Linked DNA regions of Homo sapiens: region 1 is linked to region 2. Evidence: fine-mapped expression QTL. A gene starts in region 2. The other region holds a variant in brackets. All regions are shown on one strand. Distances are between the middles of the regions.

Region 1 (12,611 bases), 910 kb after region 2:
CTTTTGAGGACATCGTTCCAGCCTCTAGGAATGGAATCTAGTGCCTCCGGGTGGGCCAAGCCCTCCAATTCACCCCCTATATTAGTGTTCATAACCTGGGTGGCTTTAAACAAAAGAAAGGTATTCTCTCAGTTCTGGAGGCCAAGTCCAAAATCACAGTATCTGCAGAACCATGTTCCCTCTGAAGGCTCCAGGTAGAATCAATTCCCTGCGTCTCCTCGCTTCTGGATCTCACCAATCTCCACCTCCATTGTCACATGGCCTTCTTATAAGGACACCAGCCGTTGATTTAGGGCCCACCCTAATCCAGTGTTACCTTATTTTAACAAACCTCATCTGTAAAGACCCTATTTTCAAATAAAGTCACATTCTGAAATAATGGGGCTAAGACTGTAACATGTCTTTTGGATGGCACAGGTCAACCCACGACAGTCCCCATACTGCCTCCAGTATGGGTACACATTCTCCAGCATCATCACAGTCTTACTCTGCTTTTTCCTCATCAGCACCTTAGACTTTGGCTGGAAGAACATTCTGGAAAGACAGGCTCAGGAGCTTTGCAGGCTCCTGGAACTGGGAAGAGTCCAGCGTATGTGGCAACTGGGCATTTGCATGTGTCACCCACAGTCTGGATCTCTCTCCTCAGCACATCCGTGGGTCCCCACTCCGCTGAGAGACCGTGGGAGGCGTTCTGGAAGCACTACACGGTGCCTCCTCTCTTCTGAGGTAGCTCAGGCAGGGCCTTGGGCCTGTAAAGCTCTGCTGGCCACATTGGCCTCCTTACCAAGAGAAATGTTTCCAGTGGCTCTGAGCCCAGCAGTGAGTCACAGCAGGGTCCCCCACCAGCAAATGTGCTGTTCCAGCTCCAATGACATTTTGAAGCTCCCTTCTCAAAGTTTCAGATGTGGTGGATGGAGGTGGACAGGAGCTTTGAGCCAAGCGAATGCAGAGGAAGTGTCAGGCTCAACAGTCCTGAATTGGAAGTGTTCAGACACCCACCCGGAAGATGGGGTGTGGAAAACCCAAGCAGCAGAGAAAGTGAAAACGCGAACGGGCATGTGGGAGTCAGCTAGTGACGATATGATTTACGTTTGTGTCAGAGCCGCCGTCCCTGCACTGCGGTGGGTGGTTTGCTTTTGTTTGTTTTAAGTTCCAGCATTGCCACTGACTATGGGATCTTGGGCAAGTAGTTAGCCTCTATCTGTGCCTCAGTTCCCTTGTCTGTCAACCAGGGGCAGAAATACTGTCACCTTAAAGGGTTGTGGGGAAGACTTGAACCCTTCAGGCAGGTAATTCAGGCAGGTAAAGAGAAGGTTAGCTCTAATCTGGCGCACACTACACCCTCGCTAAAGGGACAAGAGCTCTGAAAATGGGTGTTTGTGTCTAACTTTGGAGCTCTGGGTTGGGACACCTCCTTATACCCAAGCTGGGTCTTTGCACAGTGACTCGTGACAAATCACGTTATCAGAGACATACATAAAGACCAATATGCAAGGACGTTTCCAGCAGCATTACTAATAATAGCAAAAAAAAAAAAAAAAAAAAAAAACTGGAAACAACCCAAATAGCCCAAAAAAGGGGAAATGTATGATAGCAGATCCATGCAGGAGAATATTGTGCAGCTATTAAACAAAAGGCAGCAAACAGAACTCTCTCTACAGTGGAACCCTCATCCTGTAAACTGCATATATTCATCACTAAACAGGCAAAATCATGACTGGAGGGAAAGAGACCCGAATGGCAATAGTGCTTCCTCCTGGGTGGTGGGGTTCTGGGTAAGTCTGGTCGTCTTTGCATTCTTCCATATTTTCTAAATTTTCTAAGACGAATTGCTTTTATAGTTAGGGGGAAAAATGAGTAGGTGGTGTTTCATGAGCCACTTTCCAAGGCTGATGAGAAAGCCAGCATTGGTCAGGTTTTAGTGAGGCCTCTTTCCCTCCCTAGGGTCATGCAATATTCTTGGGGGTCCTGTACACAGCAGAACATTCAGGGAAGAGTCTCACATCACCCCTGATGTGACAGCAAGGGTGGGCCTCTGCCAGATACCCCCCTGAGGTCCTGCCAGGTCTTAGCAAGTGCCTAGGCCAGGTGTACCATTCTCTATTGCTTGCGAAACCTGCACACTGAACCACCAGCCCCTTCCCAACTTTAGGAAAAGTGTCCCAAATCTTGCAGTGAGACCAAAACAGATTCATATCCAAATACACTGTCCCCTCACTGGGGTCAGAAAAGTGTGACAAGGACAATGGACCACTGACCACTGCAGGAAGAAGCTCCAGCACCTACAGAATCAGGAAGCGTTGTGGAAAGGCCGAGGGAACCACAGCGTGAGGGCCAGGAAAGCAAGGGTGGGGTCCTGTGCAGCCCCTGAGTCTGGCACTGGGCTCAGAGGAGTAGCGAAGCCCAAGTGGAAGGAGGATACAGAGACTGCTGCGGTTAAGGGCACACTGGAGGGTTTGACCTGTCAGTCTGCAAAGATGGAGACAATGACTCCAAAGGAAACCATGGAGATCTGGAATGTGTGGCCCTGGGCCACATCTCCATCTTTCTTTCTTTTTTTTTTTTTTTTTTTTTTTTTTGCAGAGTCTTGCTCTGTCACCCAGGCTGGAGTGCAGTGGCGCGATCTCGGCTCACTGCAGCCTCCGCCTCCCGGGTTCAAGTAGTTCTTCTGCCTCAGCTTCCTGAGTAGCTGGAATTACAGGCATGCGCCACCACACCCTGCTAATTTTTTGCACTTTTAGTAGAGATGGGGTTTCACCATGTTGGCCAGGCTGGTCTCAAACTCCTGACCTCAAGAGATCCGCCCACCTCCGCCTCCCAAAGTGCTGGGATTACAGGCATGAGCCACCGTGCCCAGCCTGTCTCCATCTTTCTGATGACTCCCCAAGTCCATCCATGAGCCCAGATCTAGGGTTTCGAGGGGAGAAGGGGGACGGAAGATACTCTAGGGCTTCCCACATCCCAGGACCCTGATCCTGCACCTGTCAAGGTCAGTTTGCCCTCTTGGTGGCTGGACCTTGAGACTACTGGCCTGAAGACATTCAGTGTATCTTCATTCAATTCAACGTATTTCTTCTCCATCAGATCAGAAAAATGGAATGGTCCTCTACCAGGAATAAGTTTGATTTGGTTTAAGCACAGCAGGGGCAAGAATGTGCCAGAGAGCTTTAACGTGTCTTCCTGGGCGACCTCCTGGGGCCCTCGCAGTCCCCAACAGCCTCTCCCGAGCTCTCACTGAGCCCTTGACCATGCCGCCATCTGCTCCAGCTCCAGCCTTCTTCCTCTGCCCTGCACTTGAAGCAGGAGCTCTAAGCCCATTAGCTCATTTGTGCTATAAGGCCTAAAATGAAGGCCTACTATGTGCCACCGTGACAACTGGTAAAATTGGGAGGGCCTCGGATGGTCTAACCACAAGTTCCCCCTCCACCTCTGTTCCTGTGGATAAGGTCCTCTGGCCAGACAACCTCCTTATCCGGGAGACCAGATGCAGTTCCTGCTTCTCTCTGAGTTTCAGTTCCCTGCCAGCCCTCAGAACTATTCAGCCAAGTCAACCACGTCCTCCCATGGGCAGCAGGGGCACCTCGCCCTCTTGGTACTACAAAGCCTGCTTCCACAGCCCCAGGTGGTTCACATTGCTCCTGAGTGTGACTCCCCTGTGGCTGGTGTGGAGTGCTGAGTCCTCCCTGGGGCTGTGAGCATATATGACTGATAAACTGCTGTCAACATATCTGTCCAGTGCTGGGTGTCAAGTGTTCACGCATCCCGTAACCATAGGGTGACATCCTCCCGCACTAATGGGGTGAAAAAGAATTGATTAAAGCACCTTAAGTTCTCCCAGTGGTGGGGAGGCTTGGTGGCTGGCCAGGGCTTGCAGAGCCAGTGAGGTAAGACATCCAGCAATGTGTACAAGTGGGAACTGGGCCTAGGGCTCCCTCAGCCTGAGGCTCTATTCCCGAGAAAGGCTTTCCCCATGGGGCTGCCCCAGGCCCAGAGGTCTGGACCACATCCACTTACTTTATCAGGCCTCTTATAGATTAAAAACCAAAGACATACCAAGATGCGGATATAAATCCTGTGGCAGGTTTTAAATGCTTACATTTAACAAATAACTGCTCCTAACATTAAAACCTCACTTGGAACCATCCCCAACATCTAAATATAAAGAGGCAATTGTGAATGTGAGGCTTAGGCCAGGAGGCTCCCTGCCCCCGGCCACCAGGCTGAGCCCCGTGTCTGGAGGGGCAGCATGTGGGCCACACTGCCTGCACCAGGCCTGCCCAACGACCATGCGGCCAGGGCTCCCCTCCCTCCTCACCCCTTCCTTCATTCCTCTTCTTTCCCTGCTCCTCCCTCCTCCTTCTCTATCCACTTCCCTTCCTCCTCCTCATCCCCACTTTCTCCTCCCACCCATCTTTCTCTCTCCCTGTACCCTCCTCCACTGCCTCTCCCCTCCGCTCCCACCCCCGCTCACACATCTGAGCCCTGAAAGCCTGTGGGGACCTTGTGGTCCCAGGTGGGCCCAACTGCTCACTGCTGCCTAACCCTCTCCCTCCCACCTGGGACCTGCTGGGTTGTGGCTTGTCCTAGGGGCGCCAACCTTCCAGATCTGCATGACCAGGTCTTCACTTTAACGCTGCTGGTGTGGTCAGCAAAGCCTGGACTCGTCAGGAAGGGCTTCATGATGCAGGAACTGCGGCGAGTCCTGTACCTTCGCTGTGGCCTCACCTCTGTGTCTCCTGACATCCTGACACAGCCTGGAGCTTTGCCTCCCCACCTGACACTCCCGACACCCTAACAGACCACACTGCCCAGTTGCCCTTGCCCACGAAGGCCTCACCTCTCCACAACCTGCCTTGTAGAGTGTAAGGTGGCCTCTCTGTCCCCTGTGGCCCACTCCGGGTGACTGACACGATGGCACCAACCAGGATCCTGCAGGGCAGGCACCGCCTCTCCTGCCATCCCACTCCTGCCTGGCTAAAGATCACAGCCCAGTGCTCCCAGCTGTATGTCCTCAGGACACCCTGGCGCAAGGTCTGGCTGGCCCTTCCACTTCCTTCAGCTGGACTGAGTTGTGGAGCTTGCCAGATGTTTCCAGAGAGGTGAAGGGAGGTCTCAGCTGTTGGAGTATGGGTGCTTCTAGTTTTAAAGAGGTGTGGGCTCTGCTAAAGTTTCCGTCTTTCATTCAGTCACACTCCCTGCACACCCACGGTGTGCCAGGCCCCATGCTAAGTGCTAGGGATACAGGGAGCAACAGCCAGACAGTGCCCTGTCCTCAGAGCTTTCAATGATGGCAGGCATTCAGCCAGCAATGACAATGATACTCAACAATGAGTATATAATAACTATTAGAATTTGAGGGACACAGGAGTGTACACCAGGGGCTCTGATTTCATCCAAGCCAGGGATGGAATGATAGGGGAAAGCCCATCTGCACAATTTTGGTTGGGATTTGAGGGGCAGATAGAAGAAGCTGGTCAAAAGAGTAAGAAAAGGAGGTCCTGTGGGGTCCTGGCAGGCAAGGGACCCCACAGGGAACCTGGGTTTCATGCATATGAAGTCATGGAAGAAGGCTCCTGTGGCCACAATGTGGTGAGTGGGGGCGGCCAGCAGGCTGAAGTCAGATCCCCCAGGCCTGGGATGCAGACCACTACTTAAGGCTGAATTGCTTCAGGTGGAATCCTGGTGCAGGGTCCCAGGCCTGACCCCAGAGGCTGGCTCCTCCCCAAACTGCCCCCAGCCATGTGCTCTGTTCTTTCATGGTCTCAGAGAAGAAGCTGGTCAGGACAGAGGACCCTGAGGAAGGGCTCTCTGTTTAGACAGCTCCTATCCCACTCCTTCAGGCCAGTCCTGGTCATGCTCAGGACATGGACCAGGAGCAAAGCGCCATGCTCTGCCCCTCCCTGCA[T/C]GTGCCAGCCCCACTGGTCACACCCCGATGGCCCTTACATACTTACAGCTGTGCCACTGGGTAATTTAGCTCCCAGGGGTATTATATTTAAGGTTTTGTCAACAGGCTATTTATAAAATGCCTCTCAGGCGTGGAGAGGAAGCTCAGAGGGAGTAGGGGATGGGCACACTGCTCCTCCAGAATTATAGAGCTGCTAGAGAACCAGCTAGGACTGCAGAGGCAACAGGAATGTGTATGGTCATCAAGGTGGCTGTGGTCCGAGGACACATGCCCACCATCCTGGCAGCAGGGTGGCAGGTGTATGTGCTGAGACTGGCCTGCACTCAGGCTGTTCTCTGCACTGGCCACCTCAGGCCCCTCGCCCTCCCCATCTTCAGTTGTTCAGATCCCACCATTCTTCAACATTCAGCCAGGATGACCCCTCCTCCCCAAACCCCCACTGATTCTGTGGCTCCTCCTCCAGTACTGTGGCTCCTCCCCTGGTTCTGGGCTCCTCCCCCGGTTCTGTGGCTCCTCCTCTGGTTCTGTGGCTCCTCCTCTGGTTCTGTGGCTCCCCTCCCGGGTTCTGTGGCCCCTGCTCCGGTTCTGTGGCCCCCTCATCAGGTTCTGTGGCCCCTCGTCCAGTTCTGTGGCTCCTCCTCTGGTTCTGTGACTCCTCCTCTGGTTCTGTGGCTCCTCCTCTCGTTCTGTGGCTCCTCCCCTGGTTCTGTGGCTCCTCCTTCGGTTCAGTGTCTCTTCATCCGGTTCTGTGACTCCTCCTCTGGTTCTGTGGCTCCTCCTCCAGTTCTGTGGCTCCTCCTCTGGTTCTGTGACTCCTCCTCTGGTTCTGTGGCTCCTCCTCTTGTTCTGTGGCTCCTCCTCCAGTTCTGTGGCTCCTCCTCCAGTTCTGTGGCTCCTCCTTCAGTTCAGTGGCTCTTCATCCGGTTCTGTGTCTCCTCCTCTGGTTCTGTGGCTCCTCCTCCAGTTCTGTGCCTCCTCCTCTGGTTCTGTGGCTCCTCCCCTGGTTCTGTGGCTCCTCCTCTGGTTCTGTGGCTCCTCCCCTGGTTCTGTGGCTCCTCCTCTGGTTCTGTGGCTCCTCCCCTGGTTCTGTGGCTCCTCCTTCGGTTCAGTGGCTCTTTGTCCGGTTCTGTGTCTCCTCCTCCGGTTCTGTGGCTCCTCCTCCAGTTCTGTGACTCCTCCTCTGGTTCTGTGGCTCCTCCTCCAGTTCTGTGGCTCCTCTTCTGGTTCTGTGGCTCCTCCTCTGGTTCTGTGACTCCTCCTCTGGTTCTGTGGCTCCTCCTCTCGTTCTGTGGCTCCTCCCCTGGTTCTGTGGCTCCTCCTTCGGTTCAGTGGCTCTTCGTCCGGTTCTGTGGCCCCTCCTCTGGTTCTGTGGCCCCTCCTCTGGTTCTGTGGCCCCTCCTCCGGTTCTGTGGCCCCTCCTCTGGTTCTGTGTCTCCTCCTCCAGTTCTGTGGCCCCTCCTCCGGTTCTGTGGCTCCTCATGACCTTGCTGTTATCACAGCTCTACAGCTGGCTCCCACCATGGTTTAGAGAAAGGCCTCAGCTCCACGAGGCAAACAGGCAAGAGCTTTTTTTTGTTTTTTTCCTCTCCCTGAAAATCCCATAATTTGGGGTCACTTTTGGCTCTAAGGATGATGTTATCTTCAGGTATTAAAGAGTCTTATCTAGTCCAGCTAAAATCAAAACTTTATACAGCACTGTGAATATATTATCCTACTGAGCTATACACTTAAAAAAATGATCAGTAGGGTAAATTTTTATCTGTATTTTACCACAATTTAAATTTTTAAAAATCTAAAAACACTTTACTCTCACAAGCAATCTTAGCCTTTTGTCTCCCTCACTCAAGCCTGCACCTCAGCTCAGGGACTGGCAAGGGGGGCCAGTGGGGGTACATTGTTTAATGACATGAGATGAGTGGCTGTACTAGTCAGAGTCCTCCAGAGAAACAGAACCAATAGCAGCCATATATACACATAAAGAGTTTGTGAACATGGCTACTGAGAGATGGCAGACAGATTGAGAGAGAGAGAGACTTCTAAGGAATTGGCTCACATGATTATGGGGTCCGGCAAATCCAAAATCTGTAGAGCTGATGTCCTAGTTTAAGCCCAAAGGCCAGAAGTCGCTGTGGAACCAGGAAAAGCCTATGTTCCAGTTCACAGGCCATCAGGCAGAAGAATTCTTAATTGGGGGAGGGTCAGCGTTTTTGTTTTATTCAGGCCTTCAACTAATTGGATAAGGCCCAACCACGTTAAAAAAGATAACCTGCTTTACTCTGTCTACTACTTAAATGTTATTCTCAGCAAGGTGTGGTGGCACATGCCTGTAATCCCAGCATTTTGGGAGTCTGAGGCAGGTGGATCACTTGAGTCCAGGAGTTCAAGACCAGCTTGGGCAACATGATGAAACTTACATCTCTGCAAAAAATACAAAAATTAGCCAGGCATGGTGGCACGTACCTGTAGTCCCAGCTACTCAGAGGCTGAGGTGGGAGGATCACTTGAGCCTGGGAGGCAGAGGTTGCAGTCAGCTGAGATCGCACCACTGCACTCCAGCCTGGAGGCTGGGCAATGGAGCGAGATCCTATCTCAAAAAGAACAAGGCCAGTCTGGGTAACACAGCAAGACCTCATCTCTAGAAAAATAAAAATAAAAACTTTGTTTGATGTGGTGATGCACATCTGTAGTCCTAGCTGTTTGGGAAGCTGAGGAAGGAGGATCACCTGAGCCCAGGAGTTTCAGGCTGCAGTGAGCTGTGATCATGCCACTGCACTCCAACCTGGGTGACAAAGCAAGACTCTGACTCTTGAAAAAAATAGTAACAAAAAATAAGAAAAGTTATTCTCATCCAAAAACACCCTCACAGAAGCACTCGGAATAATGTCTAACCAAATATCTGGGTGGCATGTGGCCCAGTCAAGTCAACACATAAAATTAACCAACACAGAAGTACAGAGTAGAGACAGTGGGCCCTGCCCTGTTTCCAGCAGCCCTCACTACTGGCTGGTGTCCCTGGGCCTCAACTTCCGCATTTCTTCAGTGAGATAAGGTCTGTGAACCCCTCTGTAAGCTACAAATGTGTGCTGTTGGAGTTGGAGTGAGTTGGAGTTGTTGGAGTTGTTGTTGTTATGATTATTTTAGCGACCTTAGTAAATACCCTGAAGGTTGCTGAGGAACTTGGCAGGGTTCCCACGAGCAGCTGAGGTGGGGGTGGGGGTGGGGTTGAAATAATTGCCAAATACCTTCCTGGAATGTTGATTTCCAAAGGGAATTTATGGTCCCTGGTAGTCATTATTTCAGGGCGACTTATCAGAAAAACTGCCCGCAGCATCATCATAAGCACTTATTCCACAGGAAAGTTGTTTGCAAAACACAACAAACATCAATAATGATGTTCACAGAGCTGTAAATCTTCTAAGCCTGCCTTCCCTTCCTGGGACTAAGACACTTGATTTGGTTCTCCAGGAGCTCAGAAGTTTCCAAATAGATAACAGAATATCAAAGTCCATTAAGCAAGGTAATTTACAATAGTGGCAGGCCAAATTCAGGGAAATACATTAGGGCATTTTCCCATTTGGTTTGTAGAAAAGACATTATTCTAAGCACACAAACAATGAATGCTGTTAGGTGACAATGAGGAAATCTGTTCACTCTCCTAACGAGTTTATTCATCCCCCTCACCATGCAGCACATTAATTTTGAGTGAAAGTTGCACCACCAGATAAGATTCTCAAAGCTCTGACATAAACACCTGAGACCTCATTTCCGACCCATTAAGTAAGCATCACTGGGCATTGTAACAAAGAGAAGCGGGGGCACAAAGGTGACTTCCTTTAGAGCTCTGACTCTTACCTCAAGCTATCCCTGGAGTTATGAAACAAAGAAGCAATTTCAAATTGTGCACTGCAGAAACTTTCAGAGGCCCTGAGAGTGTTTGGGGAGAGGAATAAAATGTAAAGTGATACTAAACATGAAGTGAAATTGCTACATTTTTTTTCATGTTTTAAAAAACAACCAAAGTTTGTTTCCATTCTCTGCTGCTCTCTCCAGGTTGCACTCCCCTTTGCCCCCACCCCACCTCAGAGTGGACTCCATTTCCAGGTGTAGTCAGGAACCGGGTCAGAATGGACCCTCTCACCCATAGAAAAAAATGGGAATTATTCATGCTACTCTGTGGCCCATTCATGGAGCAACCTAAAGAGATGGAAGAGAAACTAACTCACAATTTAGTAGTTATTGAGCTCCTACTATATATCTTTGTTGCAAAGGACAGGAAACCAACTCAAACTAACTTAAGCAAAACAATGAATGTATTGATAATCAGGATCAATCATCCCACTAGTATGGTGATATGGTTTGGATCTGTGTCCCCACCCAAATCTCATGTTGAATTGTAATCCTCCCTGTTGGAGGTGGGGCCTGGTGAGAGGTAACAGGATCATGGGGGGTGAAGTTCCCATGAATGGGTTAGCGCCATTCCCCTTGGTACTGTTCTTGTGATAGTGAGTGAGTTATCGTGAGATCTGGTTGTTTAAGCGTGTGTAGCTCCTCCCCTCTCTCTCTCTGTCTCTCTCTCTCTTCCTCCTGCTCCAGCCACATAAGACATTCCTGCTTCCTCTTTGCCTTCCACTATGATTGTAAGTTTCATGAGGCCTCCCAAGAAGCATAAGCCACTATGCTTCCTGCATGGCCTGCAGAACTCTGAGCCAATTAAACCTCTTTTCTTTATAAGTTATCCAGTCTCAGGTATTTCTTTTCTTTTTTTTTTTTTGAGATGGAGTTTCGCCCTTGTTGCCCAGGCTGGAGTGCAAAGGTGTGATCTTGGCTCACTGCAACCTCCACCTCCCAGGTTCAAGTGATTCTCCTGCCTCAGCCTCCCAAGTAGGTGGGATTACAGGCATGCTCCACCACACCTGGCTAATTTTTGTATTTTTAGTAGAGACAGGATTTCACCATGTTGGTCAGGCTGGTCTCGAACTCCTGACCTCAGGTGATCCACCCACCTCAGCCTCCCAAAGTGCTGAGATTACAGGCGTAAGCCACTGCACCCGACCTCAGGTATTTCTATATAGCAATGCGAAAACTAATACAAATGGTAAACACCATCTGTGCCTGTTAGCAGCCTAACATTAGAGGCTAGGTAGCAGTCTAAACTTCCAATTCTGTGGTGTCATTGTTGTGTTTCCTGGTTTCTCCCTTGAAAACCAAGACTTCCAAACTAGCTGAGTCCAAAGTTGCAAAGTCAGGAAGCAAAAATTATGAGTGTGTTATTAGGTATAGTAGTGAAGGAAGCTTTGCTCACTTTTACCTTCTTGATTCCAGGATCCCTGTATTTTGATGCTATTCTCTAAAATCCTCCCCCCACCCCCTGCCAAGGATGCAATATTGTTTTTAGCTTACTATCCTTGCAGGAAGAGGAAAATTCATAATAGCTCTCAGTCTATAGGTCAGGGAGCTAATGTGATGATTCTGTCAATTGCAGAGTATGTCTATTCCAATTAGATACCTAGAGACTAAGGAAGTATCACAAGAGTGAGTCCATGGGCCCAGTGTGAGATGAAGTTTGGTCAAAACTCCATTTATCAGCTCACCACCATAAACCTTTCCTTTGACTAGTAGACCAAGGGGGTAGTTTGAGTTCCCAGGAATTAGCAAAAATTAAAATCTAGTGTCTAGCGGCCCCTAAAAGGACTGCCTGTTTCCTCATTCCTCAGATCCAGTGTCTGCAGATCCCAGTGGTCAAGGCTTAGGAGTAGTTTTGCAGTATATATATGGATGTATTTGTGGCATTTTGCAGATTTCTTTCTCAAGAAGGCCAAGAACCGTGTTGATCACGTGGTTCCAGGACGTGAACCGGCTTAGGTCTGGGAAAGTGAAGGGGGGACCATGACTGCATTGTGGGGGCCGAAGTTGGCTTCTGGCCACAGATCGTGCTTGTCAGGATGGTTCAGTGTGCTGTCCACCCACTTCAATCCTAGAGGCTCCAGATAAAGCAGCTACCACCAAAGTGCCCCTCCATCAAGACATTCTGATTCCCACACTGGGTATGTGTGCAGTGGGAAAAGGAGGAGGGCAGGAACGGTATTATTTGACTGTTACCGGTGTCACCCAGCATTGCCTTTTTTTGCTCACAACTAACATTTAAGGCGGGTTTTCTCTGGCCTGAACTCTCCCCTCATGGGTGCTTTGTGGATTCTTTGGGAACCCCAAATGGAACACTTGGCTGCAGGTTCCTCTGTGTGGCTGCTGCTTTCCTCCCTCAATCTCCAGGAATTTGGGGGTCCATCTGTCTTCAGGGTCACCTTTCCCTTCTGGGCAGGTTTATGAGGCCAGCCCTTTGCCCCACGTGGCCCATATCTGTAAGAAACACTTACTTATGCATCAGTGGTCTTACTACTGGTAGAAGCACAGTTGGCTCCAAATGTGCCTCACACCTCTCTCTCTCTCGCTCTGTGTGTGTGTGTGTGTGTGTGTGTGTGTGTGTCTCTGTACCCCCTACCCTGTCTCTTCCCTTCCTCTCCTCCCCTTTCTTCTCTTCCCATCTACCCCCTCTGTCTCATGTTTAGAGTCTTCAGGTGAATCTCGGAAAACACGGCCTGTAACCCTGACACTTTGGGAGGCTGAGGCGGGCAGATCGCTTGAGCTCAGGAGTTCAAGCCTAGCCTGGGCAACATAGCGAAACCTTATCTCTACTAAAGGGGGCTGA
Region 2 (12,611 bases):
GATTACAGGCGTGAGCCACCGCGCACGGCCTAATTTTTGTATTTTTAGTAGAGACAGGGTTTCACCGTGTTAGCCAGGATGGTCTCGATCTCCTGACCTTGTGATCCGCCCACCTCAGCCTCCCAAAGTGCTGGGATTACAGGCGTGAGCTACTGCGCCCAGCCTTTTGAAACTAAAATTTTTAAAAAACACTATTACAATACTTAGGGACAAATCTGACAAAAGATGTGCAAGACCTCTGAAAACTACAAAACACTGCTAAGAGAAATTAAAGATGACCTAAATAAATGGCGAGATATACATAAGCACGGATCAGAAAACTCAATACTGTTAGGATGTCAATTCTCCATAGGTTGATCTGTACACTCAATGCAATCCCAGCTGAAATCGCAGCAGCTTTTGGTAAGCTAATTTAAAATTTATCTGGAAATACAATCTAAAATAGTCAAAATAACTCTGAAAAAGAGCAAAATCAGAGGACTAACACGTGGATTCAAGACTTATTATGAAGCTACAGTAATCATGACACTACCATAGACTTTATAAATACTGTACATTAGGCTGCCCTAAATTTATAATTTTTTTAAATTTCAATAATAAATTAATCTTAGCTTACTACAATTTTACTTTATAACTTTTTTTTTTTTGAAACAGAGTCTTGCTCTGTCACCCAGGCTGGAGTGCAATGGTGTGATCTCGGCTCACTGCAACCTCCGCCTCCCAGGTTATAGTGATTCTCCTGCCTCAGCCTCCCAAGTAGCTGGAATTACAGGTGCCCGCCACGACACCTGGCTAATTTTTTGTATTTTTAGTAGATATGGGGTTTCACCATGTTGATCAAGCTGGTCTTGAACTCTGGACCTCAGGTCATCCACCCACCATGGGCCACCCAAAGTGCTGGGATTACAGGCATGAGCCACCGCACCCGGCCTACTTTATAACTTATAAATGTTTAAAACTTTTTGACTCTTTTGTAATAACCATTAACACACAAACACATTTATAGCTGTACAAAAATTTTTTCTTTCTTTATATCTTCATTCTATAAGCTGTTTTCTATTAAAATTTATTTTTCTTTTTAAACTTTTTTGTAAAAAACTAAGACACACACACATTAGCCTAGGTCTACACAGGGTCAGGATCATCAAGATGTCACTAGGCAACAGAAATTTTTTTAGCTCCATTATAATCTTATGGGACAACCATAGAATTAATATATGGGATCTGTTATGTGGTGCATGACAATATAGAGAGAGATCCAGTTATGGCCTGCATGGTTTGGTATTGTTCAACTTTTTTTTTTTTTTTGAGACAGACTCTCGGTCTGTCGCCAGGCTGGACTGCAGTGGCGAGATCTCGGCTCACTGCAACCTCCGTCTCCCGGGTTCAAGCAATTCTCCTGCCTAGCCTCCCGAGTAGTTGGGACTACAGGCGCATGCCACCACATCCAGCTAATTTTTGTAATTTTTGTAGAGATGGGGTTTCAACATGTTGGCCAGGATGGTCTCGATCTCTTGACCTTGTGATCCACCTGCCTCAGCCTCCCAAAGTGCTGGGATTACAGGCATGAGCCACCACGCCCCGGCCTTGTTCAACATTTTTATAAATGCCTTGTATGAGGACACAAATGTACATATTTATCAAACCTGCAGTTGACACAAAGCTGAGAGGGATACCTAATAACGATGGATGGCTGAATCAGGATCCAAAAGGTCTTGACAGGCTGCAACTCTGTGTCGAATCTAACAAGATGAAATTTAACAAGGACAAAGGTAAGTCTGACACTTAAGTCCAGAAAATCAATACAAGGCAGGGGAGGTCTGACTTGATGACAATTCAGGTAGAAAACAAGGTTTTTTAACTGACTGAAATCATAGCAAGGTTCAAAAACAAGGGAGTAAGAAAGAAATGGGGTTTAACTTTATAAATATTATTGTTTTTCAGCTCAACATAAACTTTTAGATAGATTTGAAAACACAACAGGCCACTTCAGGAGGTAAGTACACATTACTGGAAGTCTTCAAGCCAAGTTTGATGACGACTCTGGATGTTGAAGAAGGAGTAGTGGAATCTCATATAAGGTTTAATAGAAGAAATGACCCCAAATAATGCCTAGACTCCATAATTTACTTAATATAGGTAGATGTAAGTACAGTTTACAAGGTAAAAATAATTAAATCAATTATTTCATTCCAATTGATTTAGTAGACTGACTAGTTAAGTCTCCGAAAGATCTACTGAATGAGGAGTTCGTATTTAGACTTTTTTCCCCGTCTTCTTCTATTAGTCCAAAGACCTTTTTTTTTTTTTTTTTTTAAAGAACGATAAAGCCAGGTGCGGTGGCTCACACCTGTAATCCCAGCACTTTGGGAGGCTGAAGTGGGCAGATTACCTGAGGTCAGAAGTTCGAGACCAGCCTGACCAACATGGAGAAACCCCGTCTCTACTAAAAATACAAAATTAGCCAGGCGGGTAGCACATGCCTGTAATCCCAGCTAAAGGAGGCTGAGGCAGGAGAATCACTTGAACCTGGGAGGTGGAGGTTGCGGTGAGCCAAGATCATGCCACTGCACTCCAGCCTGGGCAACAAGAGCAAAACTCCATCTCAAAAAAAAAAAATTGATGATAGTGCTTTCTCATTTCTCATTACTAACTTAAAAACTATTTTAAATTTGTTGTTATGTAAGTAATATATGCTCCTTGTAAATAAAATTAAACCTTTTTGATGAATATAAAATGAAAAGTAAAGGCTCCTCTCCTGCTTTCCCCCCAAATTCTCTTGGACTTCGCAAGCCTCTAAAGGCCCTCCTTTGCTGAATCCCTTGGAGACTTACACTCTGTATACCACAACACTTTTTATAATATGCCACATGTTTGCTTCCCAACAAGACCAGAAGCTCCTTAAAGGTAAGATTTGTCTTTTACAAATCATGTAACTCATGTACCAAATACAGACATATTGTAGATATAAAAATTTGTTTAACTTTTGATACTTCTGAAACAAGAAATAGCAGTATTATTCAGATGCTAAGTCTTATTTTCACTTCATATTTAAAGTGGACATTGGTTTTGCCAATCCTGCATTCATTTAACTCCTCTGACCTATCCACCCTGGTTATCATTGGCTTATGGTCATCCATTCAATTGTACTGAAAGGAGAATAAGATCTCTAAATCAATCAGAGCTTCACAATCCCACAGGCATGGTTTAGCACTGGGCATGTAATCCAATCTAGACCAAAGAACTGCAATCAACTTGAAGCTGAGAGAATAGATAGGACCCTGGATACTGCAGCCATCTTGGGAGCAAAGAATAGAGCCTATCCAAATATGGAGCCAACAACGAAAGAGCAAGCATGAGAGACAGACAGGGAGAAATGGGATCCTGGTGACATCATTTAGCACTCCCTTTAAGTATCACCATCCCATTTTTGATCTCAGAATTGTCTGACTTAATGGTGGGCGCAGTGGCTCATGCCTGTAATCCCAGTACTTTGGGAAGCTAAGGTGGGCAGATCACTTGACATCAGGAGTTCGAGACCAGCCTGACCAACATGGTGAAACCCCGTCTCTACTAAAAAATACAAAAATTAGCAGGGCATGGTGGCGGACGCCTGTAGTCCCAGCTAGTCGGGAGGCTGAGGCAGGAGAATCATTTGAACCAGGGAGGCAGAGGTTGCAGTGAGCCAAGATCGCACCACTGCATTCCAGCCTGGGCAACAGAGTGAGACTCCGTCTAAAAAAAAAACAAAAAAAACCTGTCTGACTTCGAGCCTTCTTCCTTCACCAAGCTTACTACTCTAACTCCCTAAGTCTGTCTGTACATTTGAGGAACTCTTCTTATCAGGCCTGAAAGGGTAGATGGAAAGGAGAAGAAAAAGGGATTATTTGAATTAAAAAATATAAAAAGATATACAGATAAACACACATACATATACTAGCAGACTCTGAGCTACATATAGACATGAAAATGGAGATGGCATGAAATATTTATGAAAAAGAGGCAGATGTCTGGATGTGCAAAGGCTGTTGGAAAAAAAAGCTTTATAAGAAAGGGGTTGCCGCGCGCGGTAGCTCACGCCTGTAATCCCAGCACTTTGGGAGGCCAAGGCGGGCGGATCTCGAGGTCAGGGGATCGAGACCATCCTGGCTAACACGGTGAAACCCCATCTCTACTAAAAATACAAAAAACCAGCCGGGCATGGTGGCGGGCGCCTGTAGTCCCAGCTACTCGGGAGGCTGAGGCAGGGGAACGGCGTGAACCCGGGGGGCGGAGCTTGCAGTGAGCCAAGATTGCACCTCTGCACTCCAGCCTGGGAGACAGAGCAAGACTCCGCCTCAAAAAAAAAAAAAAAAAAAAAAAAAAAAAAGAAAGGGGCATCTGGGGTGACCCTTGCATTATTTGTCAGCTATGAATCTCTTCTGCCACTCTCTCTTGTTCATTAGGCGTAATGGCTATCTTTCAGTTCTGTAAAAAGTAAGTTTCAGGCTCAAAGCAATTATGCCACTATCCGGATGCTCTTTCTCAAAATCCTCGTATGACTGTTCCTTTTTCATCCTTTAAATCTCTGTTCAAATTCCACCTCTTCAGAGATGCCTTTCCAGTCCAACCAACCTAAAGTGGGCCTTTCCCTCTTTCCATCACAACAGCTTACTTCCTTCAAAGCTGTTATCACCAGCTGTATTTACAATTTGTGGTTTATCGACTGTTTCCATCACTAGAATGTAAGCTCTCTGAAAGCAAGGATTTTGTCTTGAACACCTCTATTTATACCCAATGTCTGGCACAGAACGGTAGGAACTAAATAAATTAATATTTATTGAAAGAGAGAATGAGTAGCAAAAGGTGGTAAGATAGCCTGGGAAAGCAATCGGCATTGAAGGCAGGGTGTTCCTAAGGAAGGCGCTAGAATAAGGAAGTAGGAAAAGGCAGCTGGGCTGGACACTGAATAGGAAACTGAAGGTTTACGTCGGCTGGAATAAAGGTGTCGGACCGGGGCTTCAGGGCTCCCCTGTCCACGCGTGGGGTTGGCGGAGGGGCATAAATCACTGAGTGACCAACTGTGGGCGTTCCTTTCAGAGAAACCAAACGCGACAGTTGTCTTCAAACCCCGCTCTGTCCCGTGCCGCAGACTTTACGCGGCTGTCTTCCGCGAAATCGCTAACCCCCGGTCACCAGACTTATCGCCCGGGCCCGAGCCCCCCGGGAGCCAGAAGAGTGTTTGAGAAACGGACATTCTCCGCCGGTCCCAATAGGGGTCCGACACCAGCCCGTTGACGCGCGTTTCCCCGCTCCCAGCCCTCCAGTGGACCCGAACCGGATCCTTACTTACGCTTGTCTCCGGGCTATTAGCCGATGCATGGGAGTCGCCATCTTAGCGCGGTCAAAGCCGGCCGCGCAGGGTTTTGGGAAACTCCTCGGAAGGGCGGGGCTTCCAACCGGGAGGCCGTAGACGTAGGCGGGGCCAGACAGGCTTCTAAGGGGAGGTATCTTAGTGCCGGCTGGTGGGTCGGGAGGGGAGGGGCTGGAGGGTCGGGAGGGGAGGGGCTGGAGGGTCGGGAGGGGAGGGGCTGGAGGGGCTGGAGGGTCGGGACGGGAGGGACTGGTGGGTCGGGAGGGGCCGGTGTCTCCAGTATGGGTCTCGGGTTCTCGGGCCGAACAGGGTTTCAAAGGATGATTACAGGCAAGAACATTATCTGTGGAAAATGAGGACAACATTCTCGAACGAGGGATACACATACAAAGACAAAGAATGAAACTTTGGTGTTCAGAAAACTAGAAGTAGTCTGGAGAATAGAAAGGAATTAGTTGACCAGGATTGAGACCATCAATTGAAAGAATGACTTTAGCAAGCCATGGAGTGCAAACATATACGTTATTTCTGTTTTTTATGTATTTCACAGCGTTGTTACGAGTACTAAATGGGACTGTATAACTAAAGCTGCTTTATCAAGCAGAAAAGGACTATACAAATATTTTAGAATATTTTAGCTGCACCTACATCTAATGTCAGCTCACGGAGCTATTATTCTCTTAAAACCCACGTTCTCTGAAATATATATAATTTTCTGAAGTGTGTGTGTGTTTCTGGGTCATCCATATTTTTTCCTTTTTTTTTTAATTTGAGACAGAGTCTCGCTGTGTCGCCAGGCTGGAGTGCAGTGGCGCGATCTCGGCTCAGTGCAACCTCTGGGTCCCTGGTTCAAGAGATTCTCTTGTCTCACACTCCCGAATAGCTGGGATGACAAGCACGCGCCACCATGCCCAGCTAATTTTTGTATTTTTACTAGAGACAGGGTTTCACCATGTTGGCCAGGATGGTCTCGATCTCCTGACCTCATAATCCGCCCGCCTCGGCCTCCTAAAGTGCTGGGATTACAGGCGTGAGCCACCGCGCCCAGCCATATTTTTTCAATTAATAATTAACACTTAAAATGTTTTAGGAGCTGAGGACAGAGCATTTGAACAAATAAAATCCGTGTACACATGGAACTTTCTACAGACAATGAATGAAGACTATTCTCATGGGCATAAGTACTCTAACGAAAAATATTTCAGAGTAAGGGATTAAAGAGTGATTAGGAGTTAGGGAAGGTGATGATGTGACCTTTGAGCACAACTTGTTCTTCAAAAAAATAGGCTCTTACATGTTGTGTTCTCCAGCTTGATTTTTTCATTCCTCAGTGTACTTATGAAAATGTTTTCCCGGCCAGGCGCAGTGGCTCACGCCTGTAATCCCAGCACTTTCGGAGGCCGAGAAGGGCGGATCACCTGAGGTTGGGAGTTCAAGGCCAGCTTGACCAACATGGAGAAACCCCATCTCTACTAAAAATACAAAAAAAATTAGCCGGGCGTGGTGGTGCATTCATGTAATCCCAGCTACTCGGGAGGCTGAGGCAAGAGATTCGCTTGAACTTGGGAAGCAGAGGTTGCAGTGAGCCGAGATCGCGCCATTGCACTCCAGCCTGGGCAACAAGAGTGAAACTCCATCTCAAAAACAAAAAAAGAAAAGAAAATATTTTCCCATGTCTGCACATACAGATCTAATTCATTCTTTTTATACATTATGTTATGGATTACATGGATATTCCCCAAGTATCCAGCCAGTACCCTATTGCTGAACAATTAGATCATTTACCACAACAACAGAAAGAGTAAATCCCCCGTGTTGCTATAAGATGACATCCTAGTAGGATTGCTGGGTCAAAGGACATGCACCCTGTTTTTCTTTTTTTTGAGACGGAGTCTACCTCTATTGCCCAGGCTGGAGTGCAGTGACACTATCTTGGCTCACTGCACCCTCCGCCTCCCGGGTTCAAGTGATTCCCCTGCCTCAGCCTCCCGAATAGCTGGGACTACAGGCGCCTGCCCCCGTGCCTGGCTAATTTTGGTATTTTTAGTAGAGACAGGGTTTCACCATGTCGGCCAAGCTGGTCTCAAACTCCTGACCTCAGGTGATCCGCCTGCCTTGGCCTCCCAAAGTGCTGGGATTACAGGCATGAGCCAACGCACCGGGATGGCGCTATTGTTTTTTTAAAAAATGTTTTTACCCTTTATGTTTTACCATTGGTTATTGTAACTATTCAGGAAACCTCGGTGCTGTAAATGGTAAAATTGGAATCTGGTACAAAAATCAAGTGTAGGTTTACCCTTCATATGCCTTGGCATAGAACAACAAGAACTCTTCTTCCAGTAGCATAAAAGAATTTAACTAACTTGGCTGGGCATGGTGTCTCACACCTGTGGAATGCAGTGACATGATCTTGGCTTGTGGATCACTTGATGTCAGGAGTTCAAGACCAGCCTGGCCAATATGGTGAAACCCCGTCTCTACTAAAAATACAAAAATTAGCCGTGAGTGGTGGTGCGTGCCTGTAATCCCAGATACTGGGGAGGCTGAGGCAGGAGAATTGCTTGAACCCAGGAGGCAGAAGTTGCAGTGAGCCGAGATTGCACCGCTGCACTCTAGCCTGGGTGACATAGCGAGACTTGTCTCAAAAAAAAAAGAATTACCCAGGCATGGTGGCACATGCCTGTAATCTCTGCTACTCAGGAGGCTGAGGCAGGAGAATCGCTTGAACCCAGGAGGCAGAGGGTGCAGTGAGCCAAGATTGTGTCACTGCATTCCACACTCTAGCCTGGGCGACGGAGCAAGATTCCATCTCAAAAAAAAAAGAAAGAAAAAGAAAAAGAATTTAACTAACTTGGCTAAATAAGGGAGTGGTTCAGAGCAGGGTGACCATTCATTTTGTAAAGAAGAGTGGCTATGCAAGGGGATTTGAGAGTGGCCATTCTGGGCCTCTGTGAGTAAGAAGCTCTGATTCTCCAAATGAAAACAGGATTGGCTCTTTCATCCACCTCTGGGCATGAGGGCATGAGTAGTGCCCGAAACTCCCCAGAATGAGGTGAGAGCTGCTTTCCTTAATTTATTTCCACTTTCCAAGAAGACCTAAAAACAAAATGCTCAATAGTTGTGTCATGTTTCCTTATCTTCAGATGAAGCTGCTTGGGTTCCTTAAAGTCCTCAGGCTTTGATGCAACACTTTGCTGTGACATAGATCATAAGGCTGTGTGATTGTGAGTCCAGGATTTGCTGGCTCCTCTGGTGATTTAAACTAGTCTGCAGTAGAAGAGAAGGAAATTGACATGCCAAGAGAAACAGAGATGAGAGACAGAAAAAGACCTACCTAGACTTGATTCGCTTTTCCTTCGATTATTTGGGGTTATCTCAGCTTCCTCAGTATATTCCTTTTTTTTTTTTTCCTACGAAGTCTCACTCTGTCACCCAGGCTGGAGTGCCCCAGCATGATCTTGGCTCACTGCAACCTCTGCCTCCCGGGTTCAAACAATTTTCATGCCCCAGCCTCCCAAGTAGCTGGGATTACAGGCATGCATCACCATGCCTGGCTAAATTTTTTGTATTTTTAGTAGAGATAGTATTTCACCATGATGGTCAGGCTGGTCTCAAACTCCTGGCCTGAAATGATCTGCCCGTCTTGGCCTCCCAAAGTGTTGGGTTTACAGGCGTGAGCCACTGCACCCAGCCTGCATTTCTTTTTTTATTAAGATAGTTCAAGTTAGGTTTCTCTTTCTTGACCCCAAAGGATCCTTGACTTTATCACCACAGGTAGGGTTTATCCTCATTTTACAAATAAAGGGACTGAGACTCAGGCATGTTAAGAGATTTGTCCAAGGCCCACAGCCTTGAGCTTTTTCCATTACACATCTATTTCTCCCTTCCAGCCAGTTTTGTTTGAGATAACACAGAACCAATTTCCTTATGTCAATTCAGATTCAATTGCAAGAAAAACAAAACAAAACTCTGGCCACATAAACAATGAATTTATTGGAAGTTTATTGGCTAGCTCATAGTATAGAAGTAATTGAACACCCAGGCCTTGCAAAGATCTTGAATCAGAAAAGTTCAGATCTCAGGACTGGGAACTTGTGTGCTTCCTCTTTAAACAATTGCCAGCAGATCATCAGGTTCAACCCCCTGCAGTATCTGTGTACCTAATATTGCCTCGGCTTGAGCTGAGGTCACACCACTGCACTCCAGCCTGGTAGACAGAGTAAGACTCTATCTCAAAAAGAAAAATACTAAATCAAGATTAAGTTTACATGGTGTGTAATGCAAAATAAAACAGTAATTATAATTTGTTTTATGAATAAGAATGGCAAGATAGCCTGTCTCCACAAAAAGCAAATATAGCTTAAGAACACTTTAGGGCCAGGCATGGTGGTTCATCCCGGTAATCCCAGCACTTTGGGAGGCTGAGGTGAGTGGATTGCTTGAGCCCAGGAATTTGAGACCAGCCTGGGCAAAATGGCAAAACTCTGTCTCTATCATATATATATATATATATATATATATATATATATATATATATATATATATATATATATGATAGAGCTATATTACATATATATAATTTTTAATTTGTTTTTATTTATTTAATTTTATTTTTGAGACAGTCTCACTCTGTCACCCAGGCTAGAATGCAGTGGTGCGATCACAGCTTACCGCAACCTCTGCTTCCCAGGTTCAAGCAATCCTCCCACCTCAGCCTCCCAAGTAGCTGGAACTGTAGGCATGTGCCACCATACCTGGCAAATCTGTGTGTGCATGTGTGTGTGTGTGCACGCCCAGGCTGCTCTTGAACTCTTGGGCTCAAGTAACCCACCAGTCTCAGCCTCCCAAAGTGCTGGGATCACATGCATATTAAAGCTTGCTGCAAATTTCCAAGTATTGCCAGCATTTGTAAATGTGTCCACTTTAGGTAATACAGTACACTTGTCCATTTATTATATGTTGGACCAGGATTATTTCTGTGACAAAATATTCATGTTCTGTCTCTGCATTTAAAAACTACTGTTTCTGGCCAGGCGCAGTGGCTCATGCCTGTAATCCCAGCACTTTGGGAGACGAGGCGAGCGGATCACCTGAGGTCGGGAGTTTGAGACCAGCCTGACCAATATGGAGAAACCCCATCTCTACTAAAAATACAAAATTAGCTGGGCATGGTGGCACATGCCTGTATTCCCAGCTACTTGGGAGGCTGAGGCAGGAGAATCGCTTGAACTCAGGAGGCAGAGGTTGCGGTGAGCAGAGATTGTGCCACTGCACTCCAGCCTGGGCAACAAGAGCAAAACTCCATCTCAAACAAACAAACAAACAAACAAACAAACAGTTTCTTTTCCATTTTCTCCAATGAAATTTTATTAGCAGTCACTTAAAAATCGATGTTCTGGCTGGGCGCGGTGGCTCACGCCTGTAATCTCAGCACTTTGGGAGGCCGAGGTGGGCGGATCACTTGAGGTCAGGAGATCAAGACCATCCTGGCTAACACAGTGAAACCCCATCTCTACTAAAAACACAAACAATTAGCCGGGCGTGTTGGCAGCTGCCTGTAATCCCAGCTACTCGGGAGGCTGAGGCAGGAGAATGGCTTTAACCTGGGAGACGGAGCTTGCAGTGAGCCGAGATGGTGCCACTGCACTCCAGCCTGGGAGACAGAGCAAGACTCTGTCTCAAAAAAAAAAAAAAAAAAAAAAAAAAAAATCGATGTTCTGAAGGGCTATTTTTTTAAATTTTAATTTAATTTAATTTTTTTTGAGATGGAGTCTTGCTCGGTCGCCTAGGCTGGAGAGCAGTGGCGCGATCTTGGCTCACTGCAACCTCAGCCTCCCGGGTTCAAGCGATCAAGCAATTCTCCTACCTCAGCCTCCTGAGTAGCTGGGAATACTAAAGAGCAGTGGTGCATTCATAGCTCACTGTAGCCTCGACCTCCTGGGCTCAAGCCATCCTCCAGCCTCAGCCTCCTGAATAGCTGGGATTACAGGCATGTGCCACCATGCTTGGCTAATTAAAAATTTTTTAGGGAGGGGGATAGAGACAGGGTCTTGCAGGTTCACGACCACATAGGCTGGTCTTGAACTCCTGGACTCAAGTGATCGTCCTGCCTCAGCCTCCCGAGTAGCTAGGACTACAGGTGCTCACCACCAGATCCAGCTAAAGGGCTTTTCATCATTGATAAACCCTCAAAGTATATTTTAATCCCTGGCATTTTTATGTGAACATACCTACTGCACTGCATCATGAATTTTATATGTGGTAGACTGATTCGTTAGGGCTCCTCAAATTGCAGGTGAACCAAAATCCATGAAAAAAAAGTGTATTTAAAGGATGGGAAGATACTGCAAGACGCCAGAGCAGGGAAACTAAGCACCTCAGCCCAGAACCAAGGATGTGATGCCTTTTGTCAAGACAAACTAGCCTCTGCTTTCCTCCAAGTAGTGATCTATTTCCTTCAGGCCTCTCTGGCTGAAAGTATGGCCACTGAAACCTTGGGAACACATTCTTATGATTCCACAGCCTGTCAAAGACAAAACCCAAGCAAATAAGGAAATTGATTTTATTCAGGCTGTTGTGATAGGGCAAGCACCTTAGATCTGAAGGTCAGACTCTTGACAGGGTATGTTTGTCCGACACTTATAGGGAGGAGTCGGTAATTCACAGGTGGGGTGTTTTATAGTTGGAATTGTTTTTGTGATCAAGCTGAATCTCAATCAGCTGAACAGGAAATATCTCTATGGCTAGCTAGTCTCAGAGGGACAAACAGTTCCCCTTATGAGACAAATAATGCAAATTTGGAGAGTCTGTGTCTGGTCTTGCCATAAGTAAACAGTGGTATCATCAGTGGTCTTATCTAAGTCCTATCCAGAAGAGTGATTCTTTGTAGTAAGCTGGGACAAAGAGTGTGTGTGTCAGCGTGGGGGTGAGGGGGGTTGGGGGGGCAGGTGGTTCTTAACCATCTCAGTTTTCCAGAAGTGTAGGACTTACACAGAGTTCAATGTTATGAAAACAGGAGAAAGACTATTCCACCAGCTGAGACACTCTGAAGAGAGCGCCATGTGCTTGGTCACATGTTTATCTGCTTATCTCTCCTTCAAATCATTGTGGTCCAGTGAGAGGAGGTGCTGTGAATAATTCAGCTTGTGTTATGCCCACTCCTATTGTTAGCATAGTAGAGAGAAGGGGGCCCGGGAAGATCAAGAAAAATCACCACCACAGTGGGCAAACTGTCAGAATTTAATTCCAGTGGAACTTA

Which allele goes with the higher level. Alleles are on the strand shown, and positions count from the first base shown. SD is a standard deviation of normalised expression in the study named.
For the expression in tibial artery of the gene that starts at base 5,385 in region 2, T is the low allele of the variant in region 1 and C is the other (small effect, 0.17 SD a copy in GTEx).

Evidence for each region. PIP is the estimated chance that this variant, and not a neighbour inherited with it, causes the effect.
Region 1: its variant is fine-mapped to the expression of ZCCHC10 in tibial artery (GTEx, PIP 0.97).

The regions. Positions count from the first base shown.
Region 1 is chr5:133,929,403-133,942,013 of GRCh38, forward strand. All of the region lies in intron 3 of LOC105379182 (a long non-coding RNA gene), which reads right to left. Among named protein-coding and RNA genes, the nearest start is that of WSPAR, 22 kb to the left of the region's middle. RefSeq lists enhancers at 922-1,071, 3,766-4,393, 3,856-3,915 and a silencer at 1,292-1,371. The variant T/C (reference allele first, on the strand shown) is at 5,906.
Region 2 is chr5:133,021,165-133,033,775 of GRCh38, forward strand. It overlaps ZCCHC10 (zinc finger CCHC-type containing 10), which reads right to left and starts at 5,385. Exons shown (of 5, transcript NM_001300816.3): 1 at 5,333-5,385; 2 at 1,677-1,742. The coding sequence starts at 5,373. RefSeq lists an enhancer at 5,145-5,454 and a silencer at 5,535-5,664.